Regions from separate parts of the Homo sapiens genome. Here region 2 is linked to region 1. Evidence: fine-mapped expression QTL. A gene starts in region 1. The other region holds a variant in brackets. All regions are shown on one strand. Distances are between the middles of the regions.

Evidence for each region. PIP is the estimated chance that this variant, and not a neighbour inherited with it, causes the effect.
Region 2: its variant is fine-mapped to the expression of RRAGD in CD4 T cells (BLUEPRINT, PIP 0.95).

Annotation. Positions count from the first base shown.
Region 1 is chr6:89,410,695-89,415,046 of GRCh38, forward strand. RRAGD (Ras related GTP binding D) reads right to left here and starts at 1,579. Exons shown (of 7, transcript NM_021244.5): 1 at 1,152-1,579. The coding sequence starts at 1,299. RefSeq lists silencers at 536-635, 666-775, 806-1,995.
Region 2 is chr6:89,366,724-89,371,045 of GRCh38, forward strand. RRAGD (Ras related GTP binding D) reads right to left here. Exons shown (of 7, transcript NM_021244.5): 7 at 1-1,484. The coding sequence ends at 1,333. Among named protein-coding and RNA genes, the nearest start is that of UBE2J1, 16 kb to the left of the region's middle. RefSeq lists an enhancer at 1,314-1,543. The variant C/T (reference allele first, on the strand shown) is at 2,772.

The DNA of each region.
Region 1 (4,352 bases):
TTTCTGATTCATTGAAAGTCGTGCCTGCCAGATGTAGAATAATGAAACTACCCTAGTGAGAAAAGCTTTGCATAGAGAATTTAAAATAAGTTCAGTGAATTCTCAATAAAAGTTCTTTAAAAATCAATAGTCACAAAGGTACTTGTATCTCTCACACAATTTCTTCAGTGTGAAACATTAAAGTTAGTTCCTTCTCTTGGATGCATACAGTTTCACTGAGAATAACATCATGTTTAACAGCCGCTTTCTATTGACCTTTCCAAGTGACCTTACAGTAAAGGAACTTTTGCTCGCTTCTGAGGGAAACTAAAAAAAGTTTAACCTCTCTGGAATACTAAAAGGCTCTCAACTTCCTTACACCTTAAGAAAATGCAGGAAGCCCCCACAAGCTGAACGATTGCTAAAACCCGCTTCTAGAACAGGAAAAAGAGTTTGCTTCACTATTGAAGCAAAGAATTCCCCGCCGCGCGCTCACTCCCGGGCAGGCACTGCCATGTCCAGGTGGTGATACCGAGAGCAGATAAGGTGTCCTGACAACGGTGTTTGCGTGGATCCCGGGAAATCTGCGGCCTCTCGGAGACTCCCACAACAGCTTGGCGAGCATCCCCCCGCCGCCCCGCGGGTCTCCCCAGCCACTACCTGGGTGGGCCCCTCCCGCGGCGACGCGGGGCGAGACTGACACCCGCAGCTGCCGACGACCCTGCCAGTCACGCCGCCGCCGGCTGCCTTTTTTTAGCCACGACATCTGACCCTGGCTTCAACAGCACCGTTCTGGGAGAGAGGTCCCAGGGCGCGCCCGCGGTCCCCTCCCCTCCCCAACCGCCAGACGCTGCGGAGAGCTTGGGGTGAGGGGCGCGGGAGGCACCGGCTCTGAAAGGGGCAGAAGCGCGCGCTCCTCCAGCCCAGACGCTTACTCCCTCCTTCCCCTTTTCCACCGATCCTGGTTGCCCCTCCGCCACCAGCACCGCGCTCCCTCATTTGGCAGCTCGAGGTCGGGCTTTTGGCGTCCCTCCCCACCCCAAACCCTCAACTGGACCCGCTCCCCTGGACCCCCTCCAAGTCGGTGGCTCGCGCACGGCCGGGCTGGGGGCGGGAAGGCGCCAAGGGGAGGAAAGGGGCGCGAGCCGAGGACGCGGGGGCCGGGCGCTCACCTCCCTCCTCTGTGCCGCTGTCCGGATCGGCGTCGGAGGAGTCGGGCCCGTCTCCGTAGTCCGCTAGCCCCACCAGCTCATCCTCCTCCTCCTCCTCCTCCGCGTCGTCCTCGTCCTGCGGCTGCGGCTTCCCCAGCACCTGGCTCATCGTGCCCACCGGCCGGCCGGCCCGGGGACGGCGGGGGTCCCGGGGTGGGGGCCAAGCCTCCTAGCCGGCCGCCCGCAGCCTATTTCTGAAGCGGAGGTTTGTCTAGAGCTCAGCGGGGCCCGGCGGAAGCGGGGGCCGCGCGTCCCCCGGCGGGCGGCGCCCAGGTCCGGGTCCCGCGGTTCCCAGCGCGCCCGAAGCCCCCTCCCCCGCCCCGCCCGCCGGCGGAGGAGTCAGCCGGAGCGCGGCAGTTCCTCCCGGAGGAGGGAGAGAGAGAGAGACTGCGTGACCCGAGTCACCTGACACACACTGTCACATACTCACATACACACCCCGCACGGGCGCGCGCGCGCTCGCCCGGCCGCGGGCACCACTCGGCGGGGCGCTGGGCCGAGGACACACATGCACACGCACACGCACACGCACGAGGAGACCGGGGAGGCGCGGGGCCCCTGCACCCTCCCAGACTCACACCGACACACGCCCCGTACACGGGGCCCCCGGGACGCCGGCCGTCACCCACCGCGGCTGCGCGCCAGGGGCCCCCACGCGCCTCTCCTTCACGTGGTCCCCGCACAGGCAGGGGAGGGGGCGCCGCACACCCTCAATGTCCCCCCCGCCGTCCCACTCCCACACGCCCGCAGAGCGTCTACCGTGGGCGGATGCCTCCTGCTTACAGTCCTGAGCTAGGGTCCCAAGCGGGTGGCCTCCCAACACTGTGGCGCCCAGATCCCCCACCCCAGAGCAGCGTGCCCAGGACACCCTGTGGACGCTCAAGAGCCCCAGGCGGAGAACTCAGATAAATGCACAGTGGAGGCGCAGTCTCCATAGCAATTGTCTTTTAGTGTGCCTTTATGGTTCAAAGTGCTTCCCACCAAGAATATTTAAAAAGCAGGCCTACCCAGACGTAAATGTTTCTGAAGAAATCACATGACTCGTGGCTGCTTAGACTAAATAATTCCTCTGCAGCCCTTTGGAAAAGGTCTCAGTGTATAACACACTCGGGGGCTATTCATGGCCACCTCCTCATGTCTCATTGTTGCATAGACTGTAATCCCACATGAATAAAATATTTCAAGGCTTTTGTGGGAGTAGGGGAGTGGCGGTGGTGGGGGGGCAATTCTCAAATAGGAATAGCAGCAACGTGGAGTGAGACTCTAAAACCTGCATTCCTCCTTCACAAGCTTTTCACCACGGAACACACTGTACCCACCCTTTCTGGGTACTGCAAAAAATTACGTGGATGAACTTCCTTCTGTGGAGCACAATAAGAAAAAACCGGCCGGTCAGCATGATGATCCAGCTCCTACAGGTGCCAGCAGCTCAGCCGGTGGTGCGGTGCAGAAGCGGAGGGAGGAAGCTAGGGCAGGAGACTCTCAGGGCCCAAGGGTGCTAACCTCCATAGGAAACATTTATTAACCACCTCCTATATGCCTGAGGCTGGGCTAAGTAGAGGGTCCAAGAATGCTCAGGGCAGTGTTCCTGCCCTGAAGGAGCTCACAGTCTACCAAATCATGACTCATGTCCTGGATTTTTTTTAGTATTTCTGAGTGCAGAAGGTGGATGCAGACACTTTCCAGAAGGTGGCTGCTTCTAATGGGAAAGGTCCTGAGATTTTCCAAGGGAGGCAGGCAGTATAATTTGGTATGACTGTATCAGTTAAGGTTCTTCCCAGGATGAAACAGACGGTATGTGCAAAGACTTTAACTGAAGCCTTCAAGTGAAGGAACAATTTACAGGGGTGTGGACAGAGTTTAGGGAATCAATGCAGGTATTAGCGATAGTGGGAAGATAACACCACCCCTAAATTTACAGGAGTGAGGAAGGGAGCTAGAGTCCTGGAGAGGGGCCACAAAACAGGAGCTGTAACTGATGAGGAAGCTGCTGCTGCCAGAACGGCCTCACATCAAGGAGAGAGCAAAGACCTCTCTTTCTCTCCATCCATCCTCCCTCCACTCTCCTGTGTCTCCCATTGGCCAAACCCATCTGGTAGCCAGAAGGCAAGGGAGCCTGGAACCTAGTCCAGGACAGAGATTGGATAGGGAGGGCAGGGAGTGGGTCCCTGGGTGGGGTGAGGTGCAAGGAGCATCACCAACACAAGCAGGCACTACATACTCCCATCAGAGGCAAGTTACTTATGCCCTTCTAAACCCGATTGCTTATCAATAGAACATCACTCCTTCTAAGGATTATTAGGAAGATTAAATGAGGCGGAAAAAAAATCTCAGGTACTTACAAAGCTCATTTCCTAGGAGTAATTTTCCTAGCCTATTTTCATCCCTTCCGTCAAAGGAAACCCCAGGGAGGAGGGCCTCCCAGAGTGTGGCTGAGGACTTTCAGCTATTCTATAGCTAGCCCACCATCCTCAAGTGGCCTTTGAACTGGTCTGATTCAAACTGCAAATAACAATTTAGGAGATCTAGAAGACTGTCCAAGGTCAACCCAGACTCAGACGTATAGGGCATTCCTGGGCAGGTTGCCAAGTGTGTAAGACCCATGGACTCAAGGGATCAGGAAAGGGCAGGTCATAATCCAACAGCCCCACTGTGCCTATGGACTAGAAAGGACAGAAATGTCTGATGATCCTCTAACTTCCCCAGGAAGAGAGATCTTAGAAGGAAACAATAGATTGGGGCACACTCCAAGATACTTGAGAATTGGACCATTCTTTTGTTTTTTTCTTTTAACATGGAGTCTCACTCTATCACCCAGGATGGAGTGTAGTGACATGATCTCAGCTCACTGCAACCCCTACCCCCCAGGTTCAAGCGATTCTCTTGCCTCAGCCCCTGAGTAGCTGGGACTACAGGCATGCACCACCACACCCAGCTAATTTTTGTATTTTTAGTAGAGACAGCGTTTCACCATGTTGGCCAGGCTGGTCTCGAACTCCTGACCTCAGGTGATCCACCCACTTCGGCCTCCCAAAGTGCTGGGATTACAGGCATGAGCCACCGCACCCAACCTGGACCATTCTTAAGAATAAGAATAAAATAAAATCCCACAAAAAAATCAGTAGAAGTCAAATCCTCAATTATATTCTACCCCAAGCTAAA
Region 2 (4,322 bases), 44 kb before region 1:
GGGGTAGATTTAGGACTCTTAATTTCCTGTTAGTCTAAAGTAAACATAAGTGAAATAATTTCACAGAAACAATTACACAGCTAATTGTAATGTCTCTCCAGCCATCCTTTTCCCACTGACCTTTAGGGGTCTTCAGGATGACTCTTCAGCCTTGCAGAGCATGCTGGTGGCAGGCTGAGCTTGGCTTAATCATAAGGTGGGAACAAGTGGAGTACATGAGGCATGTTATCACCAGTGAGAAGGAGATGTGGAGGTGACAAAAGTGACTAACAGGATTGAGCTCCATGGTGGGGTTCTGCGATTTGTTCTATTCACTATGGTCATGGAGCAATAAAGAACTGGTCCTGAATAAGCATTTTAAATGCAGCACACCAGACCATCGCACAGGGCCAAAAGTCCAGAATTGTATCTATGTTTTTTAGTCTGCAGTTGCCAATCACATACTTTTGGAACAACTTTAGGCCTCTGATGTTACTTTAGCCCTGGGTGGTAGGTACAGAAAAGCCTCCAGAAACCCTACAATTCAGTGACATTCTTACTTCTCTCCAGTGTTCGGCACCATTTTGGAAATCTGGTCCCAAAGTTTCAAAAGAATACTAATGCAACAAAAAGAAATAACCTCTCTGTATAAAGTGATTATAGAGATGTGTGTTGAGGTAAACAGCTTCATAAAAACCGTTGAGCAGGGAAGCACAGCCACTGCTATAGAAATTTTTAGGTAAGTCTGGTGCTAGCATTATTCTACAAAACTGTTTACACCCATTATAAATAGGGGACAGTTCTTATTGCTCCTGGAGCTTGTAGCTCCAATCTGTTCCAGCTCCACTGAAAAATGATTTTTCTCAACAATTGGTAGCAAAGATTTCCAAATTTACAAAAAGTCATTACCAATGCATCACTTTTTGATTAATTTCTGATTGCCATATAGATATGGACTACAGTATGCATGTCCTTGACACCAAGTACAGAAAAAAAGCTTAGAAAAGTCGTTTTATCAAAGTTCAGTTCAATGAGAAACATGAAAAAGTGCAAAATATGTACAATTCCTGGCAGTTCTCACACGGGATTTTTTTGACTACAGACCATAAAAGTTTACATTTGTGTAATGAAATGACAATGGATTTCACATCACTGTTAATATACAAGTTTTTGCTTCAAAGTGCTTACTTTATTTATAAAAGAGAAGATCAAGAGGGTTGCAGGAATTTTTTTTTTTTAACAACAAATCAATGGTATGTGTCCCAATCTCCTTCTTCCTCTTCCTTTAGTGCAACATGGCGCAGCAGCCTCATGGATAAGGTCTGATTTCAAAAGACATTCCTGAAACCTCACCTACAGCAGCACTCTAGGGGTCCCATTAGGGGTGGCTCTCTTTTTCTTCTGCAGCCGATTCTGAACCTTTCGAGATTTTACTACTTTCATTCTCACCTCAAAAACTTCATGAATGGCCTTCCGGAAGCAATGAAAATTATAGTCAATTAGCCCTGGAGAAGAGAACAAAAATATTTATAAATGTCACGTAGAAATAATCTCCATCTTTTCATGGGACCCATGGCCAGGACAAGCCAGTAGGGGGCAGTAGAGGATGGTCTTAGCGTAAGGACCAGAGATTTCCCTGGGATGTCTGCAGCTGGCCTTCAGAAATTGCTATAAATCTTTAGGAATTATAGGCAAAGTCTTGTGAAGGAAGATTTTTCCTGATGCAAGGTTGCAGAGCATAGACCATATTTTCAAAGGTTCCTATGACCCAAAAGATTTAAAGAACGACTGAACTGAACTTTTTTTTTAACCTTTCAGAATTAAAGATTTCTTACAATTAAGAGAAATCTGTAATGAAAAATGTTTCTCCCCAAAGGGCATTATTAGACTGAGTAGAGGCAGATCCTGACTTGGGATCCCAAAGCTGTGTATCAATCAATAAATATTTACTGAGTATCTATTATATTTAAACCATTCTCATAAGCCCGAGGGAAAGCGAAGCCCCTAATTTTAGAGTGTTAACAGTCATCTCGCCAACTCCAGCAGAAATTCAACAACCAATGACACTCAGCTTTTCAGTATTAAGTATTTTAAGTGGAGAAATAGTAGGAGGGAATCTTCTTGTGTTTTCAGAAATGTATCAGTGACACAAAAAATAGAATAAAAGATAATCCAAAGTCTTGATGAGTGCATTTTTCATCATTACTAGTAATTTGTAAAAGTCCTGAGAGCAACATTATGTTTACACCAATTAGGATAAGGTGGTCAGTTCTATTTACTATCTTTGAATTTATTAAAATAACTAGCCCAACAATTATTTCTATCTATCAGTGGATGCTTCTAGAGCCGCGTCCAAAGGAAGAATTAGGATTCCGGCCAAGGATTAAATTCTTCAAACTAGTTATACAACTAACTGCAAGGGGAGGGCGGGGAGGGCACCGTCTCGGTTTCCAGGAGCAGGAAAACCTCTGAGTAGTGCCCTCTGCTGCTTCTGCAGAGAGAGTGAACCACTAGTGCAGTAAAACCAGGAGTCAATTTCCTCAAGGAAAGACCAATGTCACAAGCAAGGGGAAAAGTAATAAAAACAAAGGAGCAAAGGAACGATTTTTAAATGGCAATTTGAATATGAGATGTGAGAGCCTCAAGATTCTCTGCTTTTATGTGCAACAAACTGTCTTAAAAAGCTTAGCTAAAAGAACTTGGCTCAATGAGAAGGGTACAATGAAATACTCAACTTGGGAAATTTCAGACATATCCTGTTCTTATTTCTGAGGCAGGGTCTCACTCTGTCA[C/T]CCAGGTGGGAGTGCAAGGCTCAATCACAGCTCATTGCAGTCTCAACCTCCTGGGCTCAAGCAATCCTCCCACCTCATTTTTGAATTTTTCCTAGAGATGAGGTCTCACTATGTTGCCCAGGATGGTCTTGAACCTCTAGGCTCAAGCAATCCTTCCACTTTGGCCTCCCAAAGTGCTGGGATCATAGGCATGAACCACTGGCACCCGCCCCTATTGTTCTTGACAAACCTTAACTTACATATCTTTGCACATTTCAAAATGTAACAGTAATCTTGCTGTGTTTGGAATTTTAAGTAAAAGTTCACAACTGAGGCTTTTTAAAGACAGTAAATATCCATAAACAGTGTTTGCTATTTCAACCCTCATGAAAAGTTTTTGAAAATACATGAACAGAGACATAAACAAAATAAACACTCTCTTCACCCCACCTACAGTTCATAAGGCCCCACATCCTTCTCTGGTTCAGGAGTTCTCAACCCTAGCTGCACAATAAAAACACCCAGGCACCAGGCACACCAGGAGGCCAGGCACAGCACAGCACTTCGGGAGGCTGAGCAGGGAGGATCACTTGAGGCCAGCAACCTTTAGCCCTGACTGCCATAAAGTGGTGGTGTGATGTTGAGAGAAAGTCATTTATATTTTCTAGGCCTGAGTAAAATCATCTGTGACATGAGAGGGTGAAACAAGGTGTATTCCTGTCTATCTTTAAAATTCCGTGATCTATTATATAATCTGTTCTTGTTTCTAGCAAGATGAAAATAAGGAGTAAAAGATGAACACCATTTAATTTACAGTTCTGAGGCCAAAGGACACAAAAGGCAATTTGGTCAGTCATGGTACACACAGGAAAAATACAGGACATCACTAAGCAGCAAGAAAATGTAAATTCACATAATATACCAGTTTTCAGTTAACAACTTTTAAAAATACTAATACCCAATATTGATAAGAACACAGCAAAATAAGTATTCATATTCTCTTCGCAGCATAAAACCAGAAAATCTTTCTGAAGAACATTTTGGTAATATGCATTAGAAGCCCCCAAAATGGGCCTACCCTTTTGATCTAAGTAATTCCACTTTAAATTTTTCCTTAGGAAACAACCAAAGATGCACATAAATATTTAGTGCAAAAGAGGTCATAATGATATTATTTATAACATTAAAATCTAGAAACAACATAGATGTCTGAAAATAGAAGAATCTAATACAATCATTAAAATGATGTGGTTAAAAAAAGACGGTGAATTGGAAACATGTCTGTAATAATTTAAGTGAAGGTTATAAAGTAGAATTCATCATACAATCTATCATAGTCCTTTTAGAAAATGCATATGCAAGAAAGGACTGGAAAAGTATACAGGAAATGTTAAGAGTAGTTATCTGAATGAGAAACATCGATAATTATTGTTTTTTTGCTAAATATTATTTCTAAATTTTCTAAAAGAATCTATTACTTTTCTGATAAAAATAAACAATGTAAATTAAGTTTTCATGGCCAATGAATTAGGAAAATTTCATGATATACGTAAGTGAAATATATGTAATATA